Linked DNA regions of Homo sapiens. The protein of the gene in region 1 purifies or fractionates together with the protein of each later gene. This does not show direct contact. Each region holds a gene or a part of one and is shown in the gene's direction. Other genes may lie near its edges.

Region 1 (8,183 bases):
TCAGCATCCCAAAGTGCTGGGATTACAGGCATGAGCCACTGTGCCCGGCCATAAGTGTGTATCTTTGAGGTGGGTGAAGGATGTTATTCTGCTTACCACAATTACTTGTACAACTTTTCTTTTTGGGACGGAGTTTCGCTCTTGTTGCCCAGGCTGGAGTGCAATGGTGCAATCTCAGCTCACTGCAACCTCTGCCTCCCAGGCTCAAGTGATTCTTCTGCCTCAGCCTCCCAAGTAGCTGGGGTTACAGGCGTGCTTCCACCATGCCCAGCTAATTTTTTGTATTTTTAATAGAGATGGGGTTTCACCATTTTGGCCTCAGGTGATCCACCCATCTCGGCCTCCCAAAGTGCTGGGATTACAGGCGTGAACCACCACACCTGGCCACAAATTTTTAACACGTATTTATTTATTTATCTATTTATTTTTGGAGATAGGAGCTTGCTCTGTGATTCAGGCTGGAGTGCAATGGCATGACCATAGCTTACTGCAGCCTCGAACTCCTGGGCTCAAACAATCCATCTGTTTCAGCCTCCTGAGTAGCTAAGGCTTGCACCAACATGCCCAGCTAATTTTTTAAATTTTATTGTAGAGTTGGGGTCTCTCAGTGTTGCCCAGGCTGATTTCAAACTCCTGGCCTCAAGAGATCCTTCCACCTCGGCCTCCCAAAGTGCTGGGATTACAGGCGTGAACCACCATACCCAGCTCTCCTATTTAAAAATCTTGTGTCCTAAAATTTGTCCATTGCTAAAAATTCCTCATAATCATGCTTTTTAGTAACGCCTAATAGTTTCACTGTAGGGAATGTATCACAATTTATTTAGCTGGTCCCCCAGCTTGTGATATTTACATCACTTTACATTTTCATGATTAAAGATAATGATTATCATGCGGAACGTCTGTGGGCCTTTGCATGACATACTGAATCAGAAAGGGGTTAAGGAAAGTGACGTGGTGGTCAGAAAGATCAGAGTTCAAATCCAGGCTCTGCCTCAGTTGGTCATTGTCATTGGAGTCTTGGTTTCCTCCTCCGCACAAAGGGGACCCTTACAAGAGCTCCAACCTTATAGATTTCTAAAAACAGCTATGTTGAGATAAAATTCACATAACATAAATCCACCCATTTAAAGTCTAAATTCAATGGTTTTTAGCCATGTACGGTTTTGGCGGGATTCAATGATGTAGAATCATTATGTGTGTGATGAACACACAAATTGCCATCATGATCAATAATTCTTTGTTCATAATTTTCATTATTTTGTTAGGCTAGGTTCTTGAGAAGTATCGATGCAGGATAAAAGCCTATAAACTTCTCAAATGTTTTGAAAGTAGGCTTGTGAAGATAGGTGGCCTTCAGTGGGATTTTAAAATGTGCTTTTGTTTTTTGGATTTTTGGTGTTTGGATAGAATTTGGGGGCATTGGAGGTGGTATGAAAGTGTTGGGTTATTTGATTCAAAATACCCTCTTTCATTCCCTTGTGTTGCACCACTGAATTATACTCACCCTCAAACTGCACACACAGAGTAATGAGGGGAAGTCACTTCTAATTCACGGACCCTCCCTGCCTGGCACCTCCCCCGCAGAGTCACCACCCTATCCCTCTTCATATCCAAGTGAGACTCCTTCGGTGAGGGTTGCATGAGTACCATTTCCAATTGCCCACCTTAACTCAAGCCACGCCAGTTTCATGGCGGGTGGGCAGAAATGAGAGGCAGGGGTCTCTGCCAATTCCATGGGGTGCCCACCCAACCTCCCAACAAACCACAGAAATATTCCATTTGGCTGTGGGTGGACTGACTGCAGGTTTTAGGGCTGAGTTAGTATGGTGTCAGCCAAATCCAGGAGTGTGTTGCACCAGAGTGGTGTGTGGGTGAATCCTCAGGCATCCCGCAGGTGTGGGATCAGGTTACGTGAGATGGGTGTGGGCTATGTGGTGAGGGATGAGAGGAAGGTGCACGGAGGGTGGGTGGGGTCAGAGGTGGGCGAGGGTGGAGGTGAGGAATGAGGCCCCAGCTGAGGTTGGACATAGTAGTTAAACCAGTGGTTTGGAATCATTTTTGGGTCATGGCCTCCTTTGAGAATCTGATGTATGCTAAGGAAAGAATGGACACACACACACACGCACATGCACACACACACACACACACACAAACCCACAAATTCTGCATATTGTGTCAGGGGTTCCCAGAACTGGGGAAATTCATCCAAGGACTGGCATTAAGAATCTCTGGTCTGGTCTAGTTCACAGGGACTTGTCAGAAACAAATCCTAAAGCTGCATTAAGAGCTTGAGGATATTTATGTCTTCTAGAGTGAAAGAGATTTAGAAAGGTTTGCAGGTTCAGGAATTAAATTCCAAAGTCCACTTTTTCCATTAATTTTTTTTTCTAGTTTTTATTTTGAAAATTTTCAAATTCTACCAAAAAATTGCAAGCTCATGTACTGTTCAACTACATTCACTAATTATCAAAATTTTCCCCCAATTCCTCCCCACTCTATGCATGCTTATGCTCTCAGAAACCCACATTTTCCTGGAGAACAATTTGAGACTAAGTTGCAAATATTGATTCTTCATCTCTACACACTTGGCATGTAACTCCTAAAATTATGGGATTCTCCTGCATAACTAAATACAATGATCATACTCACAAACTTTAACATTGATACAATATAACGTTGTGTAATATACATTAACATTGTGTAATATACATCCTATATTCAAATTTCCCCTGCAGTAACCTTCTATTAGGTTGGTGCAAAAGTAACTGCGGTTTTCGCCATTACTTTCAATTGAATTTCAATAACTTTTGCACCAGCCCAATATGAGCTGTATTCTTTCTCTTTCCCTCCTTTCCTTTCTACTTTAAAAAAAAATCCAGACTCTAATTCAGAATCATACACTTCATCTAATTATGTCTCTAAGTCTTCAGTAACAAGAATACGAATCTAGGGTTTCGTTTGGTTTTCTTTCTCCTAGTGACATTGACTTTTTGAAGAACTCAGGCTAGCTGTTTGGCAGAATGTCGCCCAGCTTGGATTTGTCTGATGGTGTCCTTATCATTAGATTCAGGTTAAATGTTTTGGCAGGAGGACCACATGGGGGAGGTGTCCCTTCTCAGTGCATCACATCAGAGGATCAGTTGGTTCCCTACTGATGAGAAGTTTGGACCATGGGTAAGGTGGTGACCTCGTTTCCCCTTGGTAATTCCTAAGTCATCTGTGGGGTAGCACTGTATTTACTGAAGGTCTCTGACTGTGGCAAATGCTGGGAGAGTCAGTGGTGAGCGCCCACACTCTGTCCTTGCTCTTGTGCTGTTTTTACAAAGGAGGGGACAGACAATAACCCAGGAAACAAATAATGACAAGATATGCAGTTTGATGAAGGACGTGGATAGGGTGCTGAGATAGAGAAGTATCAACTCTAGAGAAAGTGATCTTTAAGCTGAGACTTGAGCTGGAGGCATGCCTGTAGTCCCAACTCCTCAGGAGGCTGGGGTGGGAAGATCGTTTGAGCCCAGGAGTTCTGGGCTGTAGTGTGCAATGCCAATCAGGTGTCCACACTAAGTTTGGCATCAACTATGATGACCTCCTGGGGCTGGAGGACCACCAGGTTGCCAGGTGGCAAACAGCAGGTCAAAACTCCTGTTCGGATCAGTAGTGGGATCATGCCTGTGAATAGCCACTGCACTCCAGCCTGGGCAATATAGAGACACCCTATTTCTAAAAAAATACTACTAATAAAGAAAAAGGTGAAATTTGAATAGGAAAAAGGAGACACCCTTGGGAAGGTGGGGTGGAGGGGTTGGGGGTGGCTCCTAGTTAAGCTTGGAGGATAGAAGGAACCAAAAGACGGATGCACGGTGGTCTCAGGGAGGGAGGAATGAGCAGAGAAAGGCCCTAGGCCTGGAAATAATCATATTGAACACATGCTATCCTAATAGTGAACACCATCCTAAGTGTTTCACATGGTTTACCTTGTTTAATTCTCCTTGCAGCCCTGTGAAGTGAGCGTTATTACTGGTTTTATGCTGTAGAATCTGTGACACAGAGAGGTTGAGTAATTGCCCTAAGGTCACACAGCTTCTAAGTAGCAGTGCTGGATAGATCTGACTCCACAGACTGTGCTCTTAGCTGTGTCAAGCAGGAAGGCCCAGGGTTTCATCCAGAAAACAGAATGTGAAAAGGGACTGGAATGAAAGCAACCTGTACTGGGTGCAGAGGTGCTGTCGATAAAGGATGAGGGATGGGAAAGGAAGACAGAAGAAAGGCCTAGAAGATCAAAGGAGAAGGGTGTTCAAGGCTGCAGGCAGCACTGGAAGCCAGGCCAGCTCAGTTGACCACCTACTCTGGGCACATCCCCAACCCAGCCTGTCCCTTCAGGTCGGATTTGCAATTCTCCTGCTCTCCCTCCTCCTAAACACAAACAGGAGATTTACACTCTCAAAGTCTCTCCCCACAAATGACTTATTAATCACAAAGGGAAAAATTGTAACTTTGCAGTGGCACAACCTGGTCAATGCCAGCTTAACCAAGTGACCAAAGTGGATATTCAGGGAAGGCTCTGGAAGGGCATTTGGGGGAAGTGTAGAAAGGTTTTGTGAGGAGCACTCTGAATGACGGGGGTAGGAAGCCTTGGGGACTGAGGAGTCTACCCTAACAGGGCAGGGTCCAGAGGGGGAAGGAGGGGTATGTCTCGGGGGAAGGGAGAAGTATTGAGGTGGGGGAGGTTCTGAGGTTTGAGTGAGGCCCTGGGGAGGGACTTGACAGTTTGGGTGACAGGAGGGTCAGAATAGGGTCAGTATGGGATGTGTTGGGTGGGTAAAAGCTGGGTGAGTGCAGGGCTGGGGATAGGGTCTCCAAGGACAGTGAAAGGGTCGGGAGTCGCGGGCGAGGGCTCTAGGGCAACGGCCAGTGGAAGGGGGGGCTCCTGTGGCGTGAAGTCAAGCCAGCCCGAGGGTGAGGCGATTTGGACAGTCCGACCTGTGGCGGCGGGAGGGCGAGGGTGGCGGAGGGCGCGAGGTAGGCGGCGGGGCGTGCCGGGGCGGGGCCGGGGCGGGGCCGGCACCGCCCGGCGGGTCCCCCCGCGCTCCAGGGGGCGCTGTGAGCCTGGGCGGCCCCAGGCCGGGCGGCGGCCGCTCCCAGTGAGCGCGGCCCCTTTTCCGGGTTTCCTCCGCCTCCTCCTCCTCTCCTCCTTCTTCTCCGCTGCCGCCGCCGCTGCCCCTTTCCCGGCCGGTGGCTGCCGCTGCCGGTGCCGCCGCCGCCGCCTCCTGGGGGCCGCGAGCCGAGCGGAGACCGCCGCGGAGCGCGAGCGCCGCCCGCCCCGCCGCCCCGCCGGCCGCTCCAGGGCCGGGCCGGCTCGGCCGGCGCCCCCCGCGCCCCCAGCCCGCCCGCCCCCGCGGGCCCGGCCTGGCGCGGCCGCCCGCCGCCGCGCTCCTCCTCCTCCTCCTCCAGCGCCCGGCGGCCCGCTGCCTCCTCCGCCCGACGCCCCGCGTCCCCCGCCGCGCCGCCGCCGCCACCCTCTGCGCCCCGCGCCGCCCCCCGGTCCCGCCCGCCATGCCCGGCCCGGCCGCGGGCAGCAGGGCCCGGGTCTACGCCGAGGTGAACAGTCTGAGGAGCCGCGAGTACTGGGACTACGAGGCTCACGTCCCGAGCTGGGGGTAAAGCCGTCGCCGCCCCCCGCCGGGCCCGCTGATCCCTGCCCCCGCCCGGCCACCCCCTGCGAACCGCACTCGGGCCCGGTGGTGTCTCCCGCCGACCCCTCCGCGGGCCCGCAGGGAGGCAGAGGTCCCGCTCTCGCACATGTCCTCGTCTTCCTCTTCCCTCCCCTTTACCCCCGTTTCGTCCCTTTCTCCCCGCTTTGCGCACCCCTTTCCCCCAAGGAATGCTTTTTTACTCGGGGAGAAGTGTGGGGTCCAGGGATCGACGCCGGGTGGAAGTGAGGGAGCTGCCCTTCCTCACACTTCTGGGTTTCCACTGGGGTGGGAAGTCAACAGCTGTCCTTTGGAGCTATTAAAATGCCCTGCCTTTTAGGTTTTCTGAGATGAGGTGGTGGGAGGAAATTTCTTAAAGACGTCCAGATTTTTAAAACAGGCATTGTCTACCTTGAAGATGTGAAACGAGAAGCAGGTGCTGGGGAGCCGCGGGGCACAGGGGGCACCCTCTAGGCCTTCAGGACGGGTGCTTTGCTCGCCCCTCTGGATTGGCTCAGAGCGTTGCCTTCCTGCCCCATCTTCCCAAGTTAGGAGAGACCAATTAGGTTAGGAGCTCTGCAGAGTGAAGGGAGCCAAGATTATGTCGTGGCTTTCATTTAGGGAATGAGTTGTGACGTGATGTATAGACACTTCCAAGTGTTTGCCTGGTGGAAGCGGCTGAATGACGTGTACAGTGGGCATAGGCTTGGTTAACCCCCAGTCCTGGCATTTATGTGTGTGTCTTCCTTTTACAGTAATCAAGATGATTACCAACTGGTTCGAAAACTTGGTCGGGGAAAATATAGTGAAGTATTTGAGGCCATTAATATCACCAACAATGAGAGAGTGGTTGTAAAAATCCTGAAGGTGAGTGTCCTATGAGTGGTATGTAACATTTTCCTCCCCACAGGGCAAAAGTTTGTAAGGTACCCCAGTCACATTCTATAATGGGCAATGCAAGCTTGAATTTAATTTAATTTATTTGTTTAGAGTCAGAGTCTCACTCTGTCACCCAGGCTGGAGTGCAGATCATAGTTCACTGCAGCCTTCAACTCCTGGGCTCCAGTGATCCATCTCAGCCTCCCAAGTAGCTGGGACTACAGGTGCATGCCACCACGCCCAGCTATTTTTAAAATTTTTTTGTAGAGTCAGGGTCTGGTCATGTTGCCCAGGCTGGTCTTAAGCTCCTGAGCTCAAGCAGTCCTCCAAAAGGACTCCTTGCAGGCCTCCTATAGTTGCTGGGATTAGAGGCGTGAGCCACTGTGCCCAGCCGACGCTCAAATTTTATTTATCTGATGTCCCTTCATTACTTCTTTTTCCACCCCATTTTCCCATGAACTTTCAAGAAAATGTGCAGACATCACAAATCTAAGTTCAGTAAAGTGTTTGTTCTAAAATGTAAATTCCCTAAAGCAAAAATTCCAAAAGGGCTCCGTTTGTTAGAAAATAAATAGGTAATCAAAAGACAGAAAAGCCACTCTCAATTTAAGGGCTCCCTGAGCACTGTGTTTGTTACTCTTGGTGCATGCTGTATGTTATTCCAGAAAGAAAGTTGGAAAAAATTGGAGCGACTTCAGAAATGTATTTCAAGCCCAAGTGGAAGGAAATTCCTTAGCGGATAATCACTTGTTTTTTTCCTTTGGCAGTAAAGTTTCAGGTGGTATGGATACAGTGCACCAGTAGTGCTGAGAAGCCTTGTTGGGAAGCCAGAGAGCCATTGTTGCTTATAAGCTAGTAAAAATATAGAAGAGTTCATGTATAATTACTAAAGTAATAATTGGAACAAAACTATCTTAATATATGGTTTAGCAATGAATTTGATAATGATATGACGTTATCTCTTTGATGAAGATGATTTTAATTAGCATGAAGGGTCGGCTAAATTTTCCTTCTGGTAACTGATTGTGTAGCTTTAATAATGTTTTATAGGGTATAGTAAAAAGTAGTTCTTAGAATCTGTGATGGGTCCTCGTTATTGCCGGATCATTTCATGTGGATACAAGTCATTTAGTGAGAGATTGAGAAGACCGAAGAGTGATGTAAGCACTTTGCATACATGTGATTTCCATTGTGGCCCTTTTGCAGAGGTTCTGTGGACTAGAAAAGCTGTGGTATAGAAAAGCTGTTTCTGTGTGCTAGGGCAGCTGGTATAGGTAATCCCTGTTTAATGTGAGGGGTCAGGCTTATGCTTTCTGGTAATCATCTTTCAGAAAAAATGATTAACTCCATCACTCAAAACATCCTAGCCTAGTGATAAAGGAGCAGAATTGCAGTAAAGAGAAAAAGCAAAGTTATTTGTGTTCTCAGACACACTGGGGCTGAGAAGTGAGGAACTGATGTTGAAGATACTGAGTGTGACTCCTCTCTTCCCTAAATATGAATTGCATTTATGAAGTCACAAGGTGGTTTTTTTTTTTTTTAAGTCACAGGAAAATTACCTTAGAAAGCCATACATTAGCTTTATGTACATAAGCATAAGTTTTCAATAAGCTG
Region 2 (7,853 bases), on another chromosome or scaffold:
TTTCCTTGCTTTTGTTTTTGTTTTTTTGAGACAGAGTCTTGCTCTGTCACCCAGGCTGGAGTGTGGTGGTGCGATCTCGGCTCAATGCAACTTCTGCCTCCCGGGTTCAAGCGATTCTCCTGCCTCAGCCTCCCAAGTAGCTGGGACTATAGGCGTGTGCCACCATGACCAGCTAATTTTTTGTATTTTTAGTAGAGACAGGGTTTCACCATGTTAGCCAGAATGGTCTTGATCTCCTGACCTCATGGTCCACCCGCCTCGGCCTCCCAAAGTGCTGGGATTACAGGCATGAGCCACTGCGCCCAGCCGCCTGCTTTGTTTTTTTTTTTAAATTGTTTTTGTTTTTAAATTAATACACTTTATTTTTTACAGCATTTTTAGGTTTACAGAAAAATTGAGCACAAAATGCGAGTTCCCACACATCCTCTCTCTCCAGTTTCCCCTATTATTATTATTATTTTGAGACAAGGTCTTGGTCTTTTGCCCAGGCTGGGGTGTAGTGGTGTGATTACAGCTCACTGCAACCTTGACCTCCAGGGCTCAGGTGATTCTCCCTCCTCAGCCTCCCAAGTAGCTGGGACCACAGGTGTGCACCACCATGCCACGCTACTTAAAAAAAAGTTTTTTTGTAGAGATGGGGTCTCTCCATGTTGCTCAGGTTACTCTATTATTTATTAATATCTCGCATTAGTGTGGTACATTTGTTACAATTGATGAACCAATATGGAAACATTATTATTAAGAGACAGGGTCTCACTTTGTTGCCCAGGCTGGAGTGCGGCAGCAGGATCGTAGCTCACTGCAGCCTCAAACTTCTGGGCTCAAGGGACTCTCCTGCTTCAGCCACTTGAGTAGTTGGGACTACAGGTGTGCGCCACTGTACGCGGCTAATTTTTCAAATTTTTTGTTGATCCTCCCGCTTTGGCCTCCCAAAGTTCAGGGATTACATGTGTGAGCCACCATGCTCACAGGGTTCACTCTTTGTGTTGTACATTCCATGGCTGTTGACACATGTATCCACTATTACAGTATCACATAGAATAGTTTCAGTGTTGTAAGAGTCCCCTGTGCTCCATTTATTTATTCATCTCTCTCCCTCCACCTGAACCCTCAGCAACCAACCACTGATCTTTTTACTCTCTATAGTTTTGCCTTTTCTAGAATGTCACATAGCTGGAATCATACAGCATGCAACCTTTTCAGATTGGCTTCTTTCACTTAGTCATATGCATCGAAGATTCCTCTGTCTTTGCATGGCTTGATAACTCTATTTTATTCCTTGGCAGCTACCATTTCTAATATTTATTGTTTGTCTTCTCTTTAGGAATGTGTGTTTCATGACAGGGCTTCTTGTCTGCTTTGTTCATTGCTACATCTCCAGTACCTGAAATAGTACCTCCTTCCATGGTTGTGGTAAGGACTACGTGAGTTATTAATAATATGTTTATTAATAAAATAAATAAAGTTTTTCTGTGTGTGTGTGTTTTTTTTTTTTTTTTTTTTGAGACAGAGTCTCGCTCTGTCTCCCAGGTTGGAGTGCAGTGGTGCGATCCCGGCTCACTGTAGTTTTGACTTCCTGGACTCAAGCGATCCTTCCATCCCAGCCTCCCCAGTAGCTGGGATCACAGGTGCCTGCCAACACCCCTGGCTAATTTTTTTTTCCAAATATTCTGTAGAGGCAGAGTCCTGCTGTGTTGCACAGGCTAGTCTCGAACTCCAGGGCTCAAGTGAGCTACCCACCTAGACTTCTCAAAGTGCTGGGATTACAGGCGTGAGCCCCCCAAAATATTATGTGTATATGAGTAGTAATTGTTATTCCGCATAGGGAGACCAGAAGAGGAGGTGGAAATGGAATGCCGGTTGGTTACATCGGGTTAGGGACCTTTAATTAGTTGCTCAGAGAAGGAACAGCACCTGAGCAAATGCACAGGATGCAAGGCTCCGGGAGAAAGGGCACACTAATCCCAACTGCCAATTACTTTACAAAGCGTGTTTACATTCTAAACTCATTTAATTCTCACAAAAATAATATTGTCAGGTGGGTATTATAATCCCCGTTTTACTCATGAGAAAACAGGATCTGGGAGGTTGAGCGACTTGCCCATTGCGACCATAGGGCAAGTGGTGGCTCCAGGATTCCCATCCAGAAGTTCTGATTCATACTTCAAAGGAGCTCGGAAACTCTCCGGGTGCGCCGGGGAGTCCTGGTTCCGGTGTCCTGGGACTCCTGGGCAGGGTAACGAAACCACTTTTAAAAACTTTGCCGGGCCCGGTGGGTCACATCTGTAATCCCAGCACTTTGGGAGGCCAAGGCGGATGGATGATTTGAGGTCAGGAGTTCGAGACCAGCCTGGCCAATGCGGTGAAACCCCGTCTCTACTAAAAATACAAAAATGGCCGGCCGCGGTGGCTCATGCCTGTAATCCCAGCACTTTGGGAGGCCGAGGCGGGCGGATCACGAGGTCAGGAGATCAAGACTATCCTGGCTAACACGGTGAAACCCCGTCTCTACTAAAAACACAAAAAATTAGCCGGGCATTGTGGAGAGCGCCTGCAGTCCCAGCTACTCGGGAGGCTGAGGCAGGAGAATGGCGTGAACCCGGGAGGCGGAGCTTGCAGTGAGCCGAGATCGCGCCACTGCACTCCAGCCTGGGCGACACAGCGAGACTCCGTCTCAAAAAAAAAAAAAAAAGAAAAAAACAAAAATTAGCCGGGCGGGTAGTGTCGCACACCTGTAATCCCAGCTGGTCGGAAGGCTGAGGCAGGAGAATTGCTTGAGCCTGGGAGACGGAGGTTGCCGTGAGCCGAGATCCCGCCACTGCACTCCAGTCTGGACGACAGAATGAGGCCCCGTTTCAAAAAATAAAAAATAAAAAACTTCGCCAAGGTAGGGAGTAGTGGCTCACGTCTGTAGGATTGCTTGAGACCAGCCTGGGCAACATGGCAAAACCCTGTCTCTTCAAAAAATAAAAAAGTTAGCAGGGCGATTTGGCGCTCACTTGTAGTCCCAGCTACTCAGGAGGCTGAGGCGGGAGGATCACTGGAGCCTGGGAGGTTGAGGCTGCAGTCAGCCGTGATCGCGCCACTGTGCTCCCGCCTGGGCAGCAGAGTGAGGCTCTGCCTCAAAAAAATTAATTAAAAAATAAAAACACGCCGTTAACGAGCGGCTGCGTGCGCGAGGTGGCACACTGGGCTTGCATACGAATTCTGCCAGTGAGTGCTATTAGAGCATCAAGGAGATTCATTTTCCGAGCGACTCCTCCCTTTCCCCCGCCTCCAGGGGGCGTGGCAACAAAGCGCGGGAAAACTCGACCTTGACCCCACCCCCACTCCATGCTGGGGGCGGGGAAAAGGGGAGCCCTTAAATGGGAAATGGAGCTGGCGGTTCCCCCCCCAGCCCATACTTAGGACGCCTATCAGTTGCTCCTTTAATGCCTCTTTGGAAATGGCCCGGCCACGCCAGCACTCCTACGTCACCTCCCCCGCTTCCGGTCCGCGAGCCCTTCCCAACCTTTAGGTCCCGATTCCTTCCATGCTCCAAATCCCGTGCCCCGTCCACGCCCTCCCGCAGAGGGAGGAGCGACGGGTTACGCTGTCGCCCAGGAGCTGAACCGCGCGAGGACCCCATCCATCAGATTATATGGCGATTTAGACGGTGGGAAGACCGCAAGGAAATGGTCAGCGGATGACGTAATGTTTGGGGTGGCGTCCCATTCTGTAACTTCTGTACGGCATCAGTGACACGGGTTTAGCTTGAAACAGCGCAAAAGGACCTACACTTCTGTGCTCCACTCCGACTCAATGCGGTTCTGCTCTCAGTGCCCACCACACAGAAGCTGGGTTCCTTACATTCGCGAAAGTGAACTGCAGCTTCAAGCTTCGAGCGGCCAGTAGGGAGCGAGGGGCGGAGACGCACCTGGGTGCTCCCCCTTCCAGTAGGCAAGCTGGGAAGCAGGCTGGCTTCTTTCTAAGCGACAGTGGCGGAGGCCAATCGTTTACGAGACTCGTAGATGGGGCAGACGGACCCCGGCGCAGCCAATGGGGAGAGGTATCTTCAGAGGGCCTCGGCCCCTTGCCCAATGAGCATAAGAGGACTGTGCGGGGCTAGTTCCGAGCGGCAGTATTTAGGGCCAACCCAGTGCGGGGCTGGAAGGGGCACAGGGCTGAGCGACGGGGGCAAGGGCCAATGGCGAGTGCGAAAACGGGCAGCCCAGACCTGGAGCGCGGAGGGAGGAGAGGGAGTGGGGAGGCCGAACCGGAGAGAAGCAGGAAGTAGCGGCGGCCGCGGGGAGGGCGGCGGTGGCTGCAGCGGCTGGAGCGGGGTAGAGACCGCCGGGTCTCGGCCCGCACCAGGAGCGGAACAAGTAAGCGTGCCTGGGGTAAATACCCGCCCTTGGCTCCGCCCCCTTGGGGGGGGCGGGTAAATACCCCCGCCCCTCCCCCACTTGGTCAACTACCCCCTTCTCCGCGCCGCCCCCTGGGGCGGCTTCTAGGAAGGCCCAGACACCGCCTCCATCCATTGGGGCGGATGGGCGAAACTCCTGGCCTGTTGTAAGCACAGTCCGTAGCCGGGTAAACCCCCAGGAGGGTCGAGAACCCCAGGTCCTGGCGCCCCCGGCTCGAGAGGCACCCGAAGTGCGGCCCGGAGATTGAAGGCTGCGGGATGTCGCGACCTAAAATGGTGTCCGTTCCCGGGGATGGGGGCGGGGGACCTGGGCCAGGCCGGAGCAGAACCTGCACCCCGACTGGGTGCGGGTCAGCGTCCGGGCCCGGGCAAGACTCAGGCTTGCGCCCCCGGCCCCCTGCGCACCCCCCGATCAGTCTCCAGTCTCTAGCGAGCCTCCGGGAGTGCGCGGCGGGAGGAGGCTCCGCTGCGCCCGGAGGGGAGGGGACGAGGTCCGAGTTGGGACGGACCCCAGCTAGAGAGCTGAGAGTCGCGCAGAGACCGTCCCCTCTCTCCTCCCCTCTTTCCAGCTCCCCACCCTATCCTGTGTAGTCCTGGGTCCCCAGGTGCTGCGCAGCAGCTCCCAAAGGGCCTGGCCTGGCTGAGGCCCGGCCTTCGCTTCGCACGCCGGTGCGAGTGAGAGAAGGGCCGCGCGCCTCAGTTTCCCTTGTAGTTTCTCATGTGTACACCCCGCCCCCTCCTCGAAACCCAGGACTTGCTCCCCGCGCCAGCCCTCGGCAGATGGCAGGGACTTAATTCCGTCTGCTACCCAGCTTGGCCTCAACCTAATCGCCGCCAGCCCCTCGCCCTCCTCTGCGCTGCAGGCCTTGGGCCCGGGCAAAGGTCAGTGGAGCCCCCACTCGACCTGGGCCTGTTCAGCCTCTTCCTGTTCAGCCTCTTTGGCTTTTGGGGAACCACAGAGGGAAAGGGGGCGGGGGAGATAGGAGCCCTAGAGACAGGGCTCAGCAGTCGCAGGAAGGCCTGATCCTCCTTGGCTTGAGCTTGGCGGCTTGCTTGGTCGACTGTCTGCTCTGGGTGGGTGGCCATCGGATGACCTCTAAGTCACTGGGGCACCCAAGAGGGAGGTGGCTGGCGGGGTGTGGGGGCGGGTGAGTTCGCAGGTGTTTTCTCCTAGTCCCCGCTGGTCTTCGTTGTAGCAGTCCACTTTTCTGAGTACCTGAGTGGAAGGTAGCTCAGGCCTCTGGTCAGGAGGGAACCAGGCTTAGGAGCCAGGCCTATAGAGACAAGGGTTTTTGTTTAAACCCAGATTCTGCAGAATTGAATAGGGTGGGGGTGAGGGGAGGACTCCCCCTTTGGTTTTGCCCCCACCCCAACCTTGGTCCCAGCAATCCCAGCTGCCACTTGCTGGGACTGTCTCTAGTTACAGTCTGAAGACTGGAGAGAGGTGGGAGAGCTGGCTGGGAAATGGCCTGCAACCTGGGCAGGGAATGGATAGGGATAGACTCTTTAGTTGCTTCTTCGTAGATACAGAAACACTCATGGGGAGACACTGGTAGGGGACAGACCTGGGTCTCCCACAAACTCTGAGCTGGCCTGCTTGTTGGATTAGTGCCACATAATTCTTGTGGGATTTTTAATTTTATTTTTTGCACTTGGCCAGGTTGAGGCTAGGTGAAACTTCCTGGGCTACTGTTGCCACAGGAAAATGGAAAGGGTGAGGAGTTAAAGTTAGGGGATGGAATGGGGTGAGGAGCTTGGAGCAGAAATGATGGGTGAGGGTTGAGGGAGCCTGGCTTTTTCCCACTGTGGCAGCTGTGCTGGAGAAATGTGTATGTATCTTGGGAGTTTTAGCCTCGGGAAAGCAAGATGGGGAGGGGTGGAGAAGGAAGGGCTGGCTAGGGGAGGGCCAGGCACTCTGGGGAAGGTAGTGAGCGAGCAGCAGGTGTTTGTGACAGGAGAGGTCTAGGCTGGGGCCCTTGTGACCAGGCTGCCATCACCATTTTCCCCTCTGTCTCTTCTCTTTGTCTCTTTCTGTTCCTGTGTCTTATTCTTTCCATCTTGGTCTCTTGGGTAATTTCCTTGAGTCCTTTTCTCCCTGCTGACCAAGCTAGATCTCCAGGTGCCAGTGATGGCCCAGGTGCCCTAGACTTGATCCTGCATGACCCCTGACTCTTGCCTCCGACCCCAGCCCTAGAGTTCCAGTGCTTATTCCTTTCCAGTTCCTCCTTGACCTGACATGTCCTTGCTTGGTTCATCTGGAATAGTAAATCGTATTCTTGGTGGGATTCTTACATTAGCAATTTTGTATTATGCTCAGAATAACCCTATGATACATAGATCACTTGTGCTCTCTGCCTTGTCTTGTCTTTTTTTTTTTTTTTTTTTTTTTTTTTGAGACGGTATCACTCTGTCACCCAGGCTGGAGTGCAGTGGCATGATCATGGCCCATCACAGCCTCGACCTCCCGGGCTCAGGGGATCCTCCCATGTCAGCTGGGAGGCATAGCTGGGACTACAGGCACGTGCCATCATGCCTGGGGAGTTTCACCATGTTGCCCAGGGTGGTCTTGAACTCCTGGGCCCAAGTGATTGGCCTCCCAAAGTGCTGGGATTACAGATGTGAGCCACCACACCCGGCCATTTGTGTCCTCTTTCAAACAGCAAAAGTAAGGCACTGAAGAAACTTGCTTGTACTGCACGCCCCTGATAAAGCTGAACGAGGATCATTTCTTAAGTCTTGGCTTATGGCATTGTCCCTTTGTACATGCAGCCTTTCAGATCTGTGTGGACCCCAGAAGATCCGTGAAGAATATGAATTGATTCCATGCGGACATGAATGAGTCCTTAAACCTAGAACATCATGTACATCATCCTCCTTAATAATAGTATTGATTATTTGGTTCTATGCTGGGGACCGGAGGGGATGAGATGGTTTCCACCAGAATGCTCACTGAGCTCTATTACCCTTCCCTGTTCCCTGTATTTTTTTTTTTTTTCTGAGACAGTCTTGCTCTGTCGCCCAGGTGGGAGTGCAGTGGCACGATCTCAGCTCACTGCAAACTCCACCTCCCAGGTTCAAGCAATTCTTCTGCCTCAGCCTCCCGAGTAGCTGGGACTACAGGTGTGTGCTGCCATGCCCAGCTAATTTTTGTATTTTTAGTAGAGACGGGGTTTCACTATCTTGGCCAGGATGGTCTTGATCTCCTGACCTCGTGATCCGCCCGCCTCTGCCTCCCCAAGTGCTGGGATTACAGGCGTGAGCCACCATGCCCAGCCCCCTATATTTCTTTTTTTTGAGACAGGGTCTCGCTCTGTCCAGGCTGGAGTGCAGTGGCGTGATCTTGGCTCATTGAAACCTCAACCTCATGGGTTCAGGCGATTCTCCTGCCTCAGCCTCCTTTGTAGCTGCGATTACAGGCATGTGCCACCACACCTGTCTAGTTTTTTGT
Region 3 (7,937 bases), on another chromosome or scaffold:
ACGTGCCACCACGCCTGGATAATTTTTGTATTTTTTAGTAGAGATGGGGTTTCGCCATGTTGGCCAGGCTAGTCTTGAACTCCTGACCTCAGGTGATCCGCCTGCCTCAGCCTCCCAAAGTGCTGGGATTACAGGTGTAAGCTACTGCGCCCAGCGCTGCACGGGAGTTTTGACCTGCTCAGTTTCTGACTTGGGCCAGTTCACCCCTCCTTAGGCAACCTGGTGGCCCCTCACTCTTGGGAAGTCACCATATTGATGGCGAACTTAGTGCAGACACTCGAATAGTATAGCACACTACAGCCCACAGCTCCTGGGTTCAAGTGATCCTTCCTGCCTCAGCTCTCAGCTTCCTCAGTAACTGGGGAAAGTAAAGATTGCTTTACTTTTTTTTTTTTTTTTTTTTTTTTTTTGTGAGACAGAGCCTCATTCTGTCACCCAGGATAGAGTGCAGTGGTGTGATCTTGGCTCACTGCAACCTCTGCTTCCTGGATTCAAGTGATCCTCCCACCTCAGCCTCCCAAGTAGCTGGGACTACAGGTGCATGCCACCACACCCGGCTAATTTTTGTATTTTTTGTAGAGACAGGGTTTCCCCATATGGCCCAGGCTATTGTTGAACTCCTGAGCTCAAGATATCTGCCCACCTCGGCCTCCCAAAGTATTGGGATTACAGGCATGAGCCACTGGTCTGCCCTCATTTACCTTTTAAACATTAAGGTAAGGCCAGGCACAGTGGCTCATGCCTGGAATCCCAACACTTCAGGAGGCTGAGGCAGGAGAATCGCTGGAGCCCAGGAGTTCAAGGCTTTAGTGACCTATGATCACACCACTGTACTACAGCCCAGGCACTAGAGTGAGACTCTCTCACACACACACACAAAAACAAAAAAACAAACAAACACACAAAAAAACAAACAAACAACAAAAAAAGTAAATCATCAGAAAACTTCAACACTTGTTAAATTGTTAAAACGATCGTTAGTGTTTGTCACTTTACAAGTGACCGTAATGAATTAACATTTCTAAAGTACTGAACTCTGTTACTGTATTGAAAAGACACCTGATTGGGTAAGAACCTGGGCCACTTTAGTAATAAAAAGATCTGTTTTCTCCACAACAGCCACTCTTACAGCTAGTAAACACTTTAGGAAAGGTGTGACTTTTTGTGGTGAAATGGGAGGAGTACCTCCTGTACTACTGTCTCCACGTAAGCCTAGTAGGGGCAGAGATTTTTTTTTAAGAGAAACACCCATAAATGGGAGGCAGTTGGTATAGTGCAAGGGCATATGATTCTGTGCTCCACAAAAACTAGGTTCCTGGTTCATCGACAAGGATGTGTGGAGTTGTAAAGTTCATTTTGAAGGATAAATGTTAATTCTGGCATTTATTGACCATCCACTGCATGCAATATGCCTAACAGTTTGTAAATCCCAATATGAAAGAAAAAAATCTCATTCAACAATTGTAACACAAGTGAATGTATTGATTATTTAGTTTAGAAACAGGGTCTTGGCTTTGTTGCTCAGGCTGGTCTGGAACTCCGGGGCCCAAGTTATCTTCCTGCCTCAGCCTCCCAAGTAGCTGGGAATACAGGCGCGCGCTAACCTGACTATAAGTGGATGTATTTATTCTCAGAATATTTATTGAGTGCCCACTATGTGTCACACTGTTCTAGGGGCTGGAGATGCAGCAATAAAGGCAACAAAAGTTATTGTGCTTTTTGTTCATGATTCAGAGGTGCGGCTTACTTTTTAGTGAGGGAGGTTACAATCTAGTGAAATGGTGATTTGCAGCATGGGGGATTTTTAGAGTGCTTGATTTAGTTTCCTTTTTATTTAAAAATACATTGTTGCCATCACTTTTGCAAGTAGAGCAGTTCTTGTCAGTCTATTTGAGGATCCATCCAGTTGAGGCATTTAAAAACATCACAATGCCTTAGACTTGCAAGGGACCTTAGTTGTGATAATAGTTTTAACTCCTTTATTTTACATATGAAAAAAACTTAGCTGAGTTTACCCACTGCATTACTGAGAGGTTAAAGACTAGGCCTTAAATCTGGTTCTCTTGTATACGTGCCTCAATCATACTCCTCATGGTTCCTGGTTTCCGAATTTGGGTCTGAATCATGAGAAGCTACATTTGCAAAAAGTACAGATGGTACAACGAGTTTAGAGACTGCTATGTAAATGGAGTGATTTGGTTAATCAGAAAGAAGATGCGGTGAAAGACCAATAGGATACCTGAGCTCTAACCCTGGCCTGCTCATCAAAGAAAAACCATTTAACCTGGGCCCTAATTGCCTTGTCTTTAAAAAGAAGGGCTAGACTACGGATTTACAATGGCTCGACTTACGATTTTTCTACTTTACGATGGATTTATCGGTGTACCAAATGCATTTTCAATTTACAATATTTTCTATTTAAGGTGGATTTATCGGGAAGTATCCCCTTTCTAAATCGAAGAGCATCTGCAGTCGATGAGGCCATGTGCATAGTACTTTGAGTCCTTTAAAATATGCATCTATGCGCAGGGATTTACAAAGTGCCTGGCACATAGTGCTCAAAAAAATGTTATTTATTTATTTACTTAGAGGCGGAGTCTCGCTCTGTCGCCCAAGCTCGAGTGCAGTGGCACGATCTCGGCTCACAGCAACCTCTCACTCTCGGATTCCAGCGATTCTCCTACCTCAGCCTCCCGAGTAGCTGAGATTACAGGCGCCCGCCACCACAGCTGGCTAATTTTTGTATTTTTTAATAGAGATGGGGTTTCGCCACGTTGGCCAGGCTGGTCTTGTGAACTCCTGACCTCAGGTGATCCGCCCGCCTCGGCCTCCCAAAGTGCTGGGATTACATGCGTGAGCGACCGCAACCGGCCAAAAAATGTTATTATTAATCGCACAACAATCTCATATAGATGCAATTCAGAATATGAAAACGTTGAGAATTACAGAAATTAAGCAATACTTCCAAGGTCTATCAGCTAAGAAACAGGAGAAGCAGGCTGAGAATCCTGGGCTTCTGACTGTATTATTTCCTATGTAGTTTAGCTATAAAATTATTTTACATGAATTCGGACTTGATGTAAACCTAGAAAGATGGACAGAAACAGCACAGTTAAAGAGGGATATACTTTATGCAGAAGTAACCCATGTGCATGAAGGAAGGGTTCTGGTAAGGGAATGAATTTCATCTGCACTCTTTGTCAGGAGGCAGCTTTCCTTATGGGAGAGGGAGGCAGAGGTAGGGAAAATGTGTGAAGCCTTTGAATGCCAGGCTAAGGAGTGTGGGCAAGTCGTTAGTGGTTCTTTATCAGAGTGGTGGCATAGTATTAACAGCATTTTATTATTAATCTGGTTGTGGATTACTGAATACATTGGGGAGGTAGAAGTGGAGCTTCGGAGACCAGTTAGATGGCTGTTGCTGGAGTCTGGAGTATGAGGACCTTTAGTATGTTGACGTAGAGACCTGGGAAGGTGTTCTTTTGTTAGCAGACAGCGTTGAGGGGACATGCAAACTCCTTATATTTAAAAAGGACTTATGAGTATATAGGGGTTTCTTTCAAAAGCAGCTACTGCAGAGGCCTGAGAGGCCAAAAGGGCGCGTTTGGAATTAAAACAGAGTTAGACTCTTGGCTTTGTCATTTTCTAATTATATAGCCTAGAGGAAGTCACCTAATCTCTCTTGAGTCTTGATTTCAATTCCTCTAAGTTAGGGTTGACAATCCCTACTTGTTAGAGCATCTGTGTGCATAAACCAGACAGTGCTTTAAGGCATGTAGCAATGGCGCTGCGTGTTGGTTCCCGCCTTCCCCCCGGTATACTGCAGGCGGGGGCTGGGTAGCTAAGGACAGCGGAGGCCAGGAAAGTCGTTCTACCTGGAGATCCCGGGCTGGCACTTCTGTCCAGACCTGGACAGGCCTCCGAACGCCGGCCGGCCCTACCTTGGACCAGGCTTCGCACGGGATGACGGAGCATCCCCTGCCAGTCGGTGGGACAGACGTTTTCCTCCTCAGAGGGGCTCTGGAGCGCGAGGCAGTCCCCGGCAGCCGGGGGTACCAAGGGGGCAACGGGGGAACAGCGCGGAGAGGCGGCGCCGGCGCCCGAGGCAGCCGCGGCCACCGCGGCCACCCCCGCACCGCCCGCCGGCTAACTCGCCGCGGGTGCTGGGCCGCGCTGGCCGCGTTTGAAGTCTCCGGCGCGGCTGCTGGTTGGCCGGCGAGGGTCACGTGCGCCCAGGCAGGAGTTTCCCCGACAGCTGGAGGCTGCGTGGGATCCGGCGGCGGCTCCCGAGCGCGGCGGTGCGGCCTTCCCCGCCCCCTCCCTCCCTCCTCCCCCGCCCGCTTCCGCCCGGCTTATTATCCTCCTTATTGACAAACAGAGCGGTCGCGGCGGCGACTCTCGGCGTGCGGTGATAGCCAAGCCATGGGAGACAAGAAGAGCCCCACCAGGTAACAGCGCCCGGGCCCCGGGGCCCGGACTGTGCGGGCGGCAGGGCCCTCGTGCAGGGCTTCGGGTGGCCGCCTCGCTAGCCGCCCGGGCACCGGGGCGAGCACGGGGGCAGCGCCGCTGGTGTGCGAGTGCTGCCGCTTGAGGGGGCCGGCGCCGGCCGCCCCACAATGGAGCCGCGATGGCGGCGGCGACCGGAGCGGCCGCCCGGGTGTCAGAGCGGCTGTGGCGGCGGCGACTGCGGCCGCGCTCGCGCCCTGCCTCTTCCTGACTCCCTTCCCCCTCAGCCGGAGCGCGGCGCGCCGAGGGCCCGCGGGGCGGGGGTCGCAGAATTGGGGCGGGGGGCGGGGCGGGGGCGGCCGCGGGGCCCGGGCACCGGGCGCGGCCTGCTGGTGACCCCGCGCCGCGTCGTGTCCGGGTTGTGTCCTGCAGGCCGAAGCGGCAGCCGAAGCCGTCCTCGGATGAGGGTTACTGGGACTGTAGCGTCTGCACCTTCCGGAACAGCGCCGAGGCCTTCAAGTGCATGATGTGCGATGTGCGGAAGGGCACCTCCACCCGGTGAGTCCCGGGCCTGCCCCTCGCGCCGCCGGCCGGCGGGGTGGCGACCAGAGGACGCCCTTGCGGCTGCCGCCCCCTCCCATGACACTGGCGGACCCGGCGGGAGGAGGCAGACGGAGGTGGCTGTGGCGATAGGAACTGGGTCACATTGATCGCAACCCAGGCGATGGTTTGCGGTGAGGGGTAATTGAAGAGGCTGTAACGTTTTTTGCTGCCAAGAGAGAATAAATTATTTAAGGGAGGCATTAGCTACTGCGATTTAATTCGTATCGCTGGGTGTAATGCCCCTCTCCCCATTCTGGGTATAAAAATGTTGGCTGCATTGTTGTGTTAGTGTGTGGGGATCAAGGAAAACCCATAAAATCTCTTTAGGAGCAAAGGATGTAATTTAATTTCGTTCCTAAAGAAAGAAAAGTATCTGATTGCAGAATACACAATATATTAAAACTTATTTTTCTACATGTACTTCTGGAAGGGTCAGATCAAGGTTTTATTTAGTGTTTTTATTCCAGTACTCTAATATTTTATAAATAAGTAGTTGGAGATGAGCCCAGTCACAGGAACAGATTTTTACTGAAAGTACCTTTATATCTTTAGTTTGATTAAATGGCAGTCTCTTAGACAAATGAGATGAAAAGATCTCTGCCTATTTTCAGACTTTATTTATTGTAAGCTTGCAGTATAATAACTCTGTCTTTTAAAAAATGACTTTGAATTAAGTGAATAAAGAAAATCATCCAGGAAATTCAGTCAGTGGCATTCTTAATCTGTCAGCACTTAGTTATCGAGCTCCTTGATTCTTATACGAAGGTACCCTTTGAATTAAATATAATCCTGTGATTTATTACTTAATATTTAGAGAAGATATGTATTTTGATATTACAAAGTCCATTAGAAACTAAACTATAACAATAAGCATACTAATCTTACTGTTGCTTTAAAAAAGAAGGCACATGTAATATTGACATATACAAATATTCAGTAGACGTTAGATTTCTAAAAAATGAGATCTTGATTTTTTAAAAAACACTTTACAGAATTTTATTAAGTTTAAAATTTAGAGACAGGAATGGTTGACAGTAACTTATCTGAAAAATTTCTCAGTGAAGCTCGCTGGTTTTGACATGCTTGTTTTTTGTAAATCATCATATGCTTTTTGTATATTCCCACAATTGATAAAATATTTCGTACATTTTTCATATTCAAAAAGCAAACTTTCAAACGTATGCTAAATTTAAGGGATTACAACAGAACATTCCAAAAAGAAAAAAAGTATTTGCTAAAATGATTGTGGTTACTATTTTTGGACCCGTGATTTGTGATTTAAGTATTTTGAAAAGCAGAGTATCTTCTTGGCTGTGTAAGGTTGGAGTTGGTTTAGAGTATATTTGTGTATCTGTGTTAGTACTTTGTGCTTTTTAAAATGCTCAATAAGCAATTTTTAGAAAATTCGTTTTTTGGAGGCAGGAACATTAAAGTGGAAACAATTATAATCTTGATCTCTGGTACTATATATTATTGCTTTTTGTTGTTCCCTCTCTATTTTCTTGTAGCCATTAGAAAAATACTGAAACTAGAAGAGCCTATATGTTTATTTGCAGGGACAGCAAGGAAGGGGGGAAGCTGGTGTCCTACTCCACAGCCAGTCTTGGGGTTAGAGGAACCCTGAGAAATAGAGTAGGTGGTGGCAGCTCAGAAGAGAAGAAACAGGCTGAATACCTGGCACCTGGAAGAAGAAGGAATATAGTACACAGGGGAGTTGGCCCAGGACAGAGAAGTGGGCCTAGTTTAAAAGAGGCTTGAGGCCCACATGGGGGCCCCTGACATTTTTTTTTTTTACCAGTACATCTAAGCTCTTGTAGATCCAATTTTTAGTGGTGGAAACATTACTTGAGGAGGACTCAGAGAAGCATTGTCATTTGGATTGAAACTGAAGAGGCTCTGGGCAACTCACCAGAAATCTAAGGGACACTGTGTTCCTGAAAGTAAGTGTTCTACACCACGACCCTCTCAGCTTCTTCCTTCCTCTCTCTGAATTCTCTTCTCTTTTGATTTTGGCTCTAAGTTAAACCTAAGAGCTCTAATTTCTCTGTTATCTGTTATTTTCCTAGTGGTTTCTGAAATTCAGGGTAGAATCTGTGTTTGTATAGAACAGTGTGGAACAGGGTATTGTTACTAGAGAAGATATTGATTGCATCACAGAATATTAATATTTTTCCTCTCTGGTAATGTTAAAAAAACAAGATTAAAGGACTGCAGAACGGTGTTGAGAAGCAAAAGTTTCAGTAGTTGGAAGAAATAATTCTCCATAATTGACTTATTAATGAACAGGGTAATTTCCAGAGTAAGGTTGGCAAGTACTAAAGCCAAGACTGGATAGCTGCAGAGCAGAAGGATGCAGTTTGCTAATGATTTGTTTGTGTGACGCACAGATGGGATTTGAATCCTTTGGGTCAGACTGACCTTTGAACTGATTCTGCCTCATTGCCAAATGTTAGGCCAAGTCTAAGCCATTCTAGACATTTGAAAAACTTTTTTCTTTTTAGACCTGCAGAGAAGATTGAGTCCTTGTTCTACCTTTGAAGTCTTCTTTTTTTCTTTTTTCTTTTTTGAGATAAGATCTCATTCTGTTGCCCAGGCTGGGTTGCAGTGGCATCATCCAGGCTCACTGCAGCCTCGAACTCCCAGGTTCAAGGAATCCTCCCACCTCAGCCTCCCAAGTAGCTGAAACTACAGATGCACACCACCATGTGTGGCTAATTTTCTTATTTTTTGTAGAGATGGGGGATCTCTATGTTGCCTAGGCTAGTCTCAAACTCTTGAGCTCAAGTGATCCTCCTACCTTGGCCTCCCAAAGAACTGGGATTATAGGAATGAGCCACCATTCGGCCCCTTTAAAGTCTTTATTGGCAATATAATTTTTTTTCTTTAAATAA

Evidence for each region.
Region 2: the proteins of CSNK2A2 (region 1) and ZNF687 purify together in Homo sapiens (affinity purification with mass spectrometry; 8 studies listed by BioGRID and IntAct, with this or other methods). This does not show direct contact.
Region 3: the proteins of CSNK2A2 (region 1) and YAF2 purify together in Homo sapiens (affinity purification with mass spectrometry; 11 studies listed by BioGRID and IntAct, with this or other methods). This does not show direct contact.

What each region holds. Positions count from the first base shown.
Region 1 is NC_000016.10:58,195,107-58,203,289, reverse strand, and holds the start of CSNK2A2 (casein kinase II subunit alpha'), read left to right. Parts: upstream 1-5,183; 5' UTR 5,184-5,553; coding exon 5,554-5,657; intron 5,658-6,381; exon of another isoform or gene 6,382-6,445; coding exon 6,446-6,557; intron 6,558-8,183.
Region 2 is NC_000001.11:151,278,032-151,285,884, forward strand, and holds the start of ZNF687 (zinc finger protein 687), read left to right. Parts: upstream 1-4,267; 5' UTR 4,268-4,364; exon of another isoform or gene 4,365-4,379; intron 4,380-4,501; exon of another isoform or gene 4,502-4,528; coding exon of another isoform or gene 4,529-4,551; intron 4,552-5,156; coding exon of another isoform or gene 5,157-5,287; intron 5,288-7,174; exon of another isoform or gene 7,175-7,853. UniProt on the Homo sapiens protein: May be involved in transcriptional regulation.
Region 3 is NC_000012.12:42,234,663-42,242,599, reverse strand, and holds the start of YAF2 (YY1-associated factor 2), read left to right. Parts: upstream 1-4,351; 5' UTR 4,352-4,419; coding exon 4,420-4,445; intron 4,446-4,864; exon of another isoform or gene 4,865-4,875; coding exon 4,876-5,001; intron 5,002-5,029; exon of another isoform or gene 5,030-5,167; coding exon of another isoform or gene 5,168-5,184; intron 5,185-6,602; coding exon of another isoform or gene 6,603-6,804; exon of another isoform or gene 6,805-7,937. UniProt on the Homo sapiens protein: Binds to MYC and inhibits MYC-mediated transactivation. Also binds to MYCN and enhances MYCN-dependent transcriptional activation. Increases calpain 2-mediated proteolysis of YY1 in vitro.